2 separate regions of the Homo sapiens genome follow, and region 1 is linked to region 2. The links come from fine-mapping of genetic effects on gene expression. Tissue or cell type: whole blood. Region 2 holds a variant in brackets; the other region holds the start of a gene. All regions are shown on one strand. Distances are between the middles of the regions.

Evidence for each region. PIP is the estimated chance that this variant, and not a neighbour inherited with it, causes the effect.
Region 1: ARHGEF3 starts here. The variant in region 2 is fine-mapped to the expression of ARHGEF3 in whole blood (INTERVAL, PIP 0.91).

What each region holds. Positions count from the first base shown.
Region 1 is chr3:56,799,665-56,805,041 of GRCh38, forward strand. It overlaps ARHGEF3 (Rho guanine nucleotide exchange factor 3), which reads right to left and starts at 2,285. Exons shown (of 10, transcript NM_019555.3): 1 at 2,039-2,285. The coding sequence starts at 2,134. RefSeq lists a silencer at 2,285-2,454.
Region 2 is chr3:56,756,888-56,762,264 of GRCh38, forward strand. The region is part of intron 2 of ARHGEF3 (Rho guanine nucleotide exchange factor 3); the gene reads right to left. Among named protein-coding and RNA genes, the nearest start is that of ARHGEF3, 42 kb to the right of the region's middle. The variant A/AT (reference allele first, on the strand shown) is at 2,287.

The DNA.
Region 1 (5,377 bases), 43 kb after region 2:
GAAGCTAGGCCTACAAGGGTTGGCTGCCTTTTGCGCTGATAAGGAAACCAGAAAACTACCCACTAAACTCACTTAGGTTTCTTTTTCCAATTTTGCCAATTTCCATTATCAGGAAGTGATATGCTCATCGATGAAGCTAAAAGATATCTCTGCCTCAAAGTGTATAAAGCATACTTGATTTAGTGTTTAAATCAAACACTAAAAAACAAAAACCCCAATAGTGATATCTGAAAAATATTTACCAACTATTTCCAAAACTATTCCAACCCCTTCCTTATTTCTCACATCAGGATATCCCCATACGAGGAAAATAAGTCATATTTTATAGTCTAGATCCAGCTACCAATGAAGAAAATTAATATTTGACATGTGATAAGTTTCATATTTGTGATATATAGACATATCTATATTCTATGTATAAGAATAAAATGAAATTAAGCAGGCAAGTTTTACCTAAGCCTTTAGCTAAACTACTCAAAAACACAGGACTAAGTAATAGTAGGAAGGGACTGGTTAGAGTCCTCAGCTATCCTCACTATTCTTTTCTTTGGCCCACTTCAATTTATTAATTTATTGGTTATGCCTTTCTTCCTTACAAGTGGAGTTTGAGTGGGCACCAATTGCGCTGCTCCTATGTTGATTAAATTAGGAAGTTCCCACTGAAAAAATATTATATCCATTCCAGGCCTGACCAACCTGAATTCTATGCAAATGCCACTAGGGCCATCACACTTTCACAGCTGCTGGCAACAAAAACTCTTTGTGATAATATTCGACTGAGCTGGAGTGTAGGGTTGGGTTTGAGTGAGGGAGAAGTTAGTTTGTGCTCAGCGTATAGAAAGCTGAATACAACCAGAGACTGCTTGGAGTCCTGTCAGCCTGGAGCAGCTCTTGCTAGAGGAAATGAATCTTTGATGGTGTGCTCCCGAATATACATGATTCAGTGAGCCAAGTGCATACAGCTGAGCAGACCCAAGGAAGGCGAGTGGGTGGAACCTCAAGAATGCTGTGACAAGGCCGGATGCACACCTGCCTTCAGCCTTTCCCCAGTGGTGGTGGTGATGTTTGATGTTCGCAGAGTGAGGTGTGGGAGAGTGGAAAGCTCCCAGATACACGCATGAGCGGCAATGACTAGCTGGGTCCTGTGGGTTCCACCGCAGCTTGACCACAGCAAAGCTGTAATCTAGCGAAAGCGACTGTATTCCCTAAGACCCTCAAAGAGAGGGATGCTTTCTCCTCCAGCTGAACCCAACCTTTAAGGCCAGTGAGCTATGTGCCAGAGAAATAACACGCAAGAGGAAAAGGCAGACTAAACATAACCTGGGAGCACTCCTTCACATCGCCCGCAAGGCACAGGAAAGTTCCCAGAAAGAGAAATGTTTCCAATGTTCCAAGGCAGCTTTCCATTGACCCTAAGGACTTTAATTCATTTTCAAGATCCATGTGGGAGACACTCCAATTTACTCATTTAGCCCCAGCCCCCCGGCTGAATGACCCTCACTGGCCACAGGTGATAGGCAGAGGCGCTGTGTCCTGTTTTTGCTGCCAAAGGGCTGCAAGGCCAAGTCTGACAGGTGAGAGGGCTGGTACGTCCCTCTGCTCTCACAACCCAGGCAAAAAAAACTCGCTTAAAGGGTAGCGACACTGGGGCTTGCTGACACTTCCCTGACACTGGGGCTTGCTGACAGTAGGAGAAAGTCCCTCTGAGAGTCCAGACAGAAGATGGACAGTCTGAGAGCCCTGCAAAGGCAAGGAGGCAGTTGCTCCCAGACCGGCAGGTAGAGGGACAGGGAGAGAGGAGGCAGCTAGTGCTTGGTCCACAGAGAAAAAGCGAGAGAAAAGGAGACAGGGTGAGAGATGGCGACGGGGAGACACAAAGAAGACTGTGGGAGAGATGTAGAGAGAGAAAGTGGCACACACGGAGAGTGAGAGATGGAAACAGAGACAGTGACACTGGACGGGCGCCGAGAATGGGAGATGGAGGCAGACGAGACAGGCAGATGACCCATAGAGGTCCAGGTGCAGGGCGCGGCCCTACCTCAGCGTCCTTGGCCGGACCGCTGGCCGGGGGTAGCTCCAGGCTGCAGTTCGCTCTCTTGACCGTGAGGTAGAAGGGGTAATCCTTGGCCACCATGGCGGCTGCCGGGCCTGCCCTTTGGGATGTCACCGCTGACCCTAGGCGACTACAAAACTCCCAGGCAAAAGGGGGCCCCAGCTCCACGATGCCGGGCGGCGGCGGCGACACGGAGACCGACAGCCGGCTTCTAGCCGGGCAGGACTCGACTGGGCTCCGGAGCCGAGTGGGCGGGACCGTGCCAGCCACGCCTTGATGGGTGGGGAGGGGGCGGGCCGCCGGCTCGGCACCGCCCCACGCTGCCGGGAGGGCCCACGTGCCGCAGCGCGGACACCTCCTGGGGCTGCGAGGGGCGTGGGGCGGTCCCGCGGGTGGAGAGGGACCTCTCTCTCCCCGCTGGTATTCGACTCCGGGCGCCCCCGCAGAGCGTGGGCCGCGATTGCGGGGCAGGCAGACCCCATGATAGCTCCTTTCGGGCTCTTTGGCACTCTCCGGGTGAAAGGCTGCTGGTAGAAAGGAGGCTGGGGCGAAACCGGGCAACGGGGAGAAAGGAGGCTGTAGTGACACCTGGAGGCAGGAAGGAGCCTGGGGGGAAAAGCGAGCGTTTTAAAAGCCCACATTAGAAAGGGGTGGTGTTCTCTCTTACCCTGTTCCCAGGCCACTGCACGTTTTTTTTGTTTTGTTTTGTTTTTGTTTGGTTTTTTAAATGAATGTCAGTGGAATATAATCTACAAATGGCAAAATGCACCCATTTTAAGAGTACCGTTTGTTGAGTTCTGACAAATGTAAACACCCGTATAACCACCTCCACAGTCGGTATACGAAACATTTCCACCACCCCCGGAAAATTCCCTCGAGACCTTTCCCACTTTGCACCAACTTTTAAATTTGACTAGCATATTCAGAGGCTGCCTGACACTCGAGGGCAATCTGACAGAGTGTCCTTCAAGTATAAAGCTGTGCATGGATGACCTGGCACTACCACACCTTTCTGGATCCTTTTTGGAGAAACAATGACATTATAAATGCCCAAGAAGGCGATTGATCTTAAGGTTGTTTGCAGCAGCCCTGTCTGGGGCAGTAAAAAATAAAAAATAACTGGAAACAATGGTAATATATCCATCAATAGGGAGTGCTTAAATAAACTTTCTTCACTGTGTAATACCGCTTAGCAGCAGTGAAAAAGGAGATGGGTCTATGGGTGTGGCATGGAAAGATCTCCAATGTATTAGACTCAGTTTAAAAATAATTGCAGACTAAGCATAATACAATACCATTTGTGTTAAAAAAAAATACAAGTTTACCAAAGAATATCATATATTTTCTATAAAGACATATTTGTGGGTAAATAGCATTGAACACTGTCTACAAGAATCCACAGCAAGCTTTTACCAGTTCCCCTGTGGCTGAAGGGAGGCACCTGGGTTTAAAGAATTAAAGATAGTGAACAAAAGGGACTTAAGCTTATAGCTCATGTTTTAAAATTTTTTATAAGAAAAATACAGCCTGGGCAGCAGTGAAACCCTGTGTCTACAAAAAAAATACAAAAAATTAGCCAGGGATGGTGGTGCACACCTGTAATCCCAACTACTCCAGAGGCTGAGGTGGGAGGATCACTTGAGCCTGGGAGGCAGAAGTTGCAGTGAGCCAAGATCATACCACTGCACTCCAGCCTGGGTGACAGAGACCCTGAGAAAAAATAAAAAAGAAAAGAAAAAAAGAAAGAAATAGAGGAAGGAAGAAAGGAAAAAGAAAAGAAAAGAAAAGAAAAAAGAAAAGATGGCTAGGTAGAGTGGCTCACACCTGTAATCCCAACACTTTGGAAGGCCAAGGCAGCAGTGTGGCTTGAGGCCAACAGTTCAAGACCAGCCTAAGCAACATAGCAAGACCCTGCCTCTACAAAAAAATTTAAAAATTAGCCAGGTATGGTAGTGCATGCCTGTAGTCTCAGCTAATCCCGAGGTTGAGGTGGGAGGATTCCTGAGCCCAAGAGTTCAAGGCTGTGGTGAGCTATGGTTGCACCACTGCACTCTAGCCTGGTGACAGAGTGAGACCCTGTCTCAAGAGAAAAAAAGAAAAATACCTTCATTCATGGCACTTCTTGGGAAATTATAGTTTTTTAAAATATTATAATTATCATATTTTCTTTCTTTTTTTTTTTTTTGAGATAGGGTCTTGCTTTGTTGCCCAGGCTGGAGTGTAGTGGCATGATCTTGGCTCACTGCAACCTTCTCCTCCTGGGCTCAAGTGATCTTTCCACCTCAGCCTCCCAAGTAGCTGGGACTACAGGCCTGGACCAGTGTGCCCAGCTAATTTTTGTATTTTTGTAGAGACAGGGTTTTGCCATGTTTGCCCAGGCTGGTCTCCAACCCCTGAGCTCAAGCAATCCACCTGCCTCAACCACCCAAAGTGCTGGGATTACAGGTGTAAGCCACCATGCCCAGCCCTAAAATGATCATCTCTCAAAAGTTATTTTGTAGACTGTACTGTTGAATCTTTTTCCTCCTCATGTGGAAAGTCATGACTACATCAGGTGGTGATCTATGGAGACACTATCTTTTGTTTTTACTTCCTGGGGATGCAGGGGATAGTGGGAATGGTGATATCCAGTCCCTGTTTGCGTGCTCTTTGCTTCTAGCTGAGGTCAGAACCCAGCAGTTCCTACTTCTCAGGCAGGACACCTCATAATACATAGCTCTTCATCCCAGGTATCAAATCCACACCCTCACACTAAATCCACTTACTTTCCTACCCAGCTAGTGCAGACAAACTGCCTTTGGAGGCAGAAAGAATTGGGCCCTGTGTAACCAGCCTGTTATTACCACACATGTAAATGAAGCTCCTGAATGGGTGGAGGTTCCAACTGAAATTGAAGAGAGCACCTGAGTTTTTTTCCCTCGATAGATAACCTGAAGCAATAGGAAGAAAACTGTCTCAGAAGAGGTATGGGGCAGGAAAGAGCACCTCAGAACCACTGATTTTTCCTATTTGTATTCCTGAACACAATTTTATCCTTTTAGCCTGAGCTGTGCTGATGGGGAGCTCACACAAGTGCTCCAAAAGCTTAGCCAAGCTTGGTGGGGGTGTGAGAGTAACCTCATCTCCAAGTAGCCCCTGATTAACTATGCAGCCAAAGGCAGGGCCAGAGGCAGTGACATGCGTCACTCAGGGCTTGTCTGGCCACCAAGAACCTGTGCCCAAGTACCCGAGCCACTTCTTATTCCTCTTTCTCTGCCTGCTCTTCTGGCCCTCACAGTCCACTATCTCAACTAGAACACATTTGCCATCAAAGCCACTGGCTTT
Region 2 (5,377 bases):
AAACAGCACCTCCTCTAAGAAGTCTTCACCAACATTCTCCCATCCTCCTCCCCCAGAGCAATTCAGACATACTTCTGATATAGCAATGATCATACTTGATTATAATTATTGGTCACCTGCTCTTAACTAGAAACTTCCTGAGGTCAGGAATTGAATTTGCTTATGACATATGAGCCTTCATCACAAAGGCATTCTAAGGTAGTTCCCAGTTATTTTGAGATTCAACAATAAAATTCCAGAAAGTAAAGAAAAATTTTAAAAGGAACTATTCAACATAAGGGCATTGTTAAATAAGTTGTAAGTGGCTGGGCACAGTGGCTCACGCCTGTAATCCCAGCACTTTGGGAAGCCGAGGTGGGTGGGTCACCTGAGGTCAGCAGTTTGACACCAGCCTGGCCAACATGGTGAAACCCCGTCTCTACTAAAAGTACAAAAATTAGCCGGGGCGTGGTGGCATGTGCCTGTAATCCCAGCTACTCAGGAGGCTGAGGCAGGAGAATCGCTTGAACCCAGGAGGCGGAGATTGCAGTGAGCCAAGATCGTGCCACTGCACTCCAGTCTGGGCGACAAGAGTGAGACTCCGTCTCAGAAAAAAAAAAAAGTTATAATTACCTGCTGGATGGAATATTATCTAGACAATTCAGAGATAATTTAAAATGTAAACACCCCTTCTATGTAGCCTAAAATAAAATCAGGATTAAAAATCTATATGTGAACATTTTATAGTTATGCAAAAAATGCACATGAGCAAAGATATAAAGGGAACATCACAAAATTCTATTGTTGTTTCATGTTGACATTATGAGTGATTTCTGTCCTCCTTTATATATTTTTAGCCTTTTTTTTTTGTTTTGAGATGGAGTCTTGCTCTGTCGCCCAGGCTGGTGTGCAGTGGCGCAGTCTCAGCTCACTGCAAGCTCCGCCTCCCGGGTTCACACCATTCTCCTGCCTCAGCCTCCCAAGTAGCTGGGACTACAGGCACCTGCCACCACGCCCGGCTAATTTTTTGTATTTTTAGAAAAGACGGGGTTTCACTGTGTTAGCCAGGGTGGTCTCCATCTCCTGACCTCGTGATCCGCCCGCCTCGGCCTCCCAAAGTGTCTAAAATGGCCGGGCGTGGTGGCTCACGCCTGTAATCCCAGCACTTTGGGAGGCTGAGGCGGGCGGATCACCTGAGGTCAGGAGTTCAAGACCAGCCTGAACAACATGGTGAAACCCTGTCTTTATTAAAAATACAAAAAAAATTAGCTGGACGTGATGGTAGGTGCCTGTAATCCCAGCTACTTGGGAAGCTGAGGCAGAAGAATTGCTTGAACCCGTGAAGTGGAGATTGTAGTAAGCTGAGATTGCGCCACTGTACTCCAGCCTGGGCGACAGAGCAAGACTCCCTCTAAAGGAAAAAAAAAAAAATAGAAAATGAGGCGGGGCTTGGTGGCTCATGTCTGTAATCCCAGTTCTTCGGGAAGCCAAGGCAGGCGGATGGCTTGAGCTGAGGAGTTCGAGACCACTCTGGGCAACGTAGCAAGACCTCATTTCAGTTCTAAATTAAAAAAATATATATAGATATATATGTAAGAATAAATGAAAAATGTAAAAAGAAACTTCCAAAGAGCTTCAGGGTATTACCACAACCTTCTGGAAGCAGGACGCTCACTCTGCAAGTAGCAACACAAGCCCCTTAGGCTGGCACAAGTAGTGGGGGTGCTCCTGGGCTCACTAATGAGCTCATGATGGCTGGACCAGCCCTATGCAGGTCAAGAAAGTACTTGCACCAAATACACAGTTCACTAATGGTATCTTACAAATCCTTGTGATCTCTTAAAAACAGTCCCTTGTAAACAGTAACCAGGAACTAAATGCACACAGATCGCCAGCACTCGGAATCAATTAGCCACAAGCATTAAAAGGTCAAAACAAGTGCAGTGAGTCATTAAGTAACTTGCTCAACCCAGTTTGCAGTTCTGATGGCAGCTGAGTTAAGAATTAAAGAGCAGAAAGAAAGGAAACACACACAAAAACTTCAAAATGAAAGTTTCCACTTTCACTTGAGAGAATCAACCTCCTATCCTGTTATATTTTCAGTCCTTGGCTAACTTTAAACTCCCCCTACCAGTTTGAAAATAATGTATGCTAACTTTAAATTCTCATACATTACAAAAGTATATAAAATTAAGTACAAATGCCCTCATTTCCCCAAGTCTATCTCCTAGAAGTAACAACTGTTAAGTTTGTTCTAGCTCTTTCCAAACTTTTTCCATGCATTTGTTAACATTCATAGAAAACTGA[A/AT]TTTTTTTTTTTTTTTTTTTTTGAGATGGAGTCTCGCTCTGTCGCCCAGGCTGGAGTGCAGTGGCACGATCTCGGCTCACTGCAAGCTCTGCCTATTGGGTTCACACCATTCTCCTGCCTCAGCCTCCCAAGTAGCTGGGACTACAGGAGCCCGCCACCAGGCCCAGCTAATTTTTTTGTATTTTTAGTAGAGATGGGGTTTCACCATGTTGGTCTCGATCTCCTGACCTCGTGATCCGCCTGCCTTGGCCTCCCGAAGTGCTGGGATTACAGGCGTGAGCCTCCGCGCCTGGCCGAGAATGTTTTCTCTTTCTACTTGACAGTATCTTGAGGTGAAATTTACATAACTCAATTACTTTTTCGTTGTTGTTTTTTTGGAGATGGGTCTTGCTCTGTTGCCCATACTGGAGTGCAGTGGTGCAACCATATCTCACTGTAACCTCAAACTCATGGGCTCAAGTGATGCTTCCACCTCAATCTCTTGAGTAGCTGAGATTATAGATGAGTGCCACCGCTAAGCAAGTGCCTGGCTAACTTTTGTATTTTTGATTTAGTAGACATGGGGTCTTGCTGTGTTGCCCAGGTTGGTCTTGAACTTCTGGTCTCAAGAGATCCTCCCGCCTCAGCCTCCCAAACTGCTGGGATTACAGGCATGAGCCACTGTGCCCAGCCTACAATTAACCATTTTTTAGTGAACAATTCAGTGCTATTTAGTATATTCACAAGGTTGTACAACTACCATCTCTATTTAGTTCCAAAACATTTCCATTACCTCAAATTCACGTATTCTTTTTAATGGCTGCAGAATTAGTATCCCTCCCATAGTCTGGACAGACCTATTGATTTAATCAATCCACAACTGATGGACATTAAAATTGTTTCCAGTGTCTGGCTATTACAAAAAGTGCCTCAGTGAACATGCTTTGTGTATTTGTGCTGATACTTCTAAAAGGCAGGAATTCCTTAAGTGGAATTCCTTGGTCTAAGAAGTATGAACATTTTAATGTTTGAGATGTACCACTAAGTTGACCTCCAAATAGGCTATTCAACTTTATATTCCTCAGATAGGTACATAATAGTACACTTTGCTCACACTCTCATCAACAAGGTATTATTATCAATCTGATAGGTTAAACAACTATACCTTAATTTCAGTTTTGTGTTTTGAAGGTAAGATTGAGCATATTTTAATTAATTTATTTAAAAATTTCCCAGAGAGTTGGAGATTGTCTTCTGCTGCGGCATGGGAAAAAAGAGAGCAGTAAGCTGTACTAGGTGAGCTCTACCACTATGAATTTCTTGCTTTGCGTTTCCCTAGTGATTGCTGGGCTCAGGGTACTATGGGGGATATCACAGAGGGTCTTTTATGCGCTTTGCCTACACGTAGCACTTCTGATATATTCTCTCTGATTCTCACAACCACCCTGCAAGTTGGGGGTTTATTCCCATTCTACTGAGGAGGAAACTGAGGTTGAGGGAGGCTAAGATTCAAAACCAGATCTGGTTCCAACAGAGCCTGAGCTCTTTCTACTTTGGGGACTGCATCTACTGTTTACATGCAAGACATGCATTTTGGGGAAGTTTCAATGAGATGGGATCCAGCTCCTGCCTTCTAGGAATATAAATCTACTTAAGGAAAGAGAGAGAATACATTTGCTCAGTTTTAGGAATAATGGCTGATATCTGACCAATCAAATTTCAAATTTACACCTTTAATTAGGCTGGATTAAAAGAAACATTTTTTCTTACTCCACTCAGAAGGGACTGGATGTTGAAAGAAGAATCCCAAGGGAGGAATAAAGAATGCCAACCATTTGTCCAGGTGAGGTTACTGACACCTGTAAGTCTAGCAATTTGACAGGCTGAGATGGGAGGATTACCTGAGGCCAGGAGTTTGAAACCAGCCTGGGCAATGTAGCAAGACCCTGTCTCTATAAAAAAGAATAATAATAAAAGAATACCAAACCAGTGAGTGGTCAGCAGCCGTCTGGCCCCGGGGAAAAGGGGCAGCAGCTGGTATGGTCTGGGGACAGCACATGGGTGATGGGCAGGTGTTCATAACAGCACTGACCACATACCATGAGCTACCCCTGAACCCATCATCAGTACCACTGGGAAAAACTACATGAGAGAACTAGAGTTGAGGGAGGAACAGGCAACTACTACTAGAAGAAAAAAACTCCAAGAGGATGCCTCTTTAGAGAGAAGAACAGCCACATCCCTATCAGCATCCCTGCCACTGTCCATCTACACACCCTCTGCCCTTCTCTTTTTTTTTTATATTCAACATGTGCTGTATTTATAGGTTTGTTTGTTTCTTTCATGTCTATTTCCTTCCAATAGAAGGTAAACTCCTTGAAGGCAGGCATATCTACCTCCTCTATTCACTGATGGATTCATCAGCAACTGATATAGTAAGACCTCAACAACTTTTGCTTAATGATTAAATGTTATGCTTGCTATGTGCTGGGCACTGTGAGGGGAGCTTTAGAGCCCTGCTTATCTGAGAGGTAAGGATTCTGTCCCCTTTACAGACAAGGAAACTTGAGGCTCAGAGAAGGTGACACTTTGCTGAAGGTCACACAGCTAATGAATGGTGCTTTATTATTTAAAACCCGGTGGTAAGGTGACTGTCAGAATGACAATCCAAGTCTGGTCTATTTCAGGCCAACCTCCCTGCCCCAATATTTAACCAATATCCTACCCTAATTGCCCTAGGATAAGATTCATAGTGTAGCGGGGTACATGTGCCCAAATAAATGAACTGTAGTTTACTTCTTGGCCTGTAGAAAGTTTCTCAACCTGGCCACCACAACATTTTGGACTAGAGATTCTTTATTGTGGGAGGCTCTCCTGTGCATTGTAGGATATTTCGCATCATCTTTGCCCTCTAACCACCAGATGCCAGCAGCACAGCCAGCCCAGTTATGACAACCAAAACACCTCCAGACATTGCCAAATGTTCCTGGGGTGAGAAACGCCAGTCCACGGTAACTAGAAGAGGCCCACCTCAAAGTGAGGGACCTGGCCTTGGGCAGGACCACATAAAAACAGAAGCACATACATAGATCTCCCTGGGTGTGGGGATGCT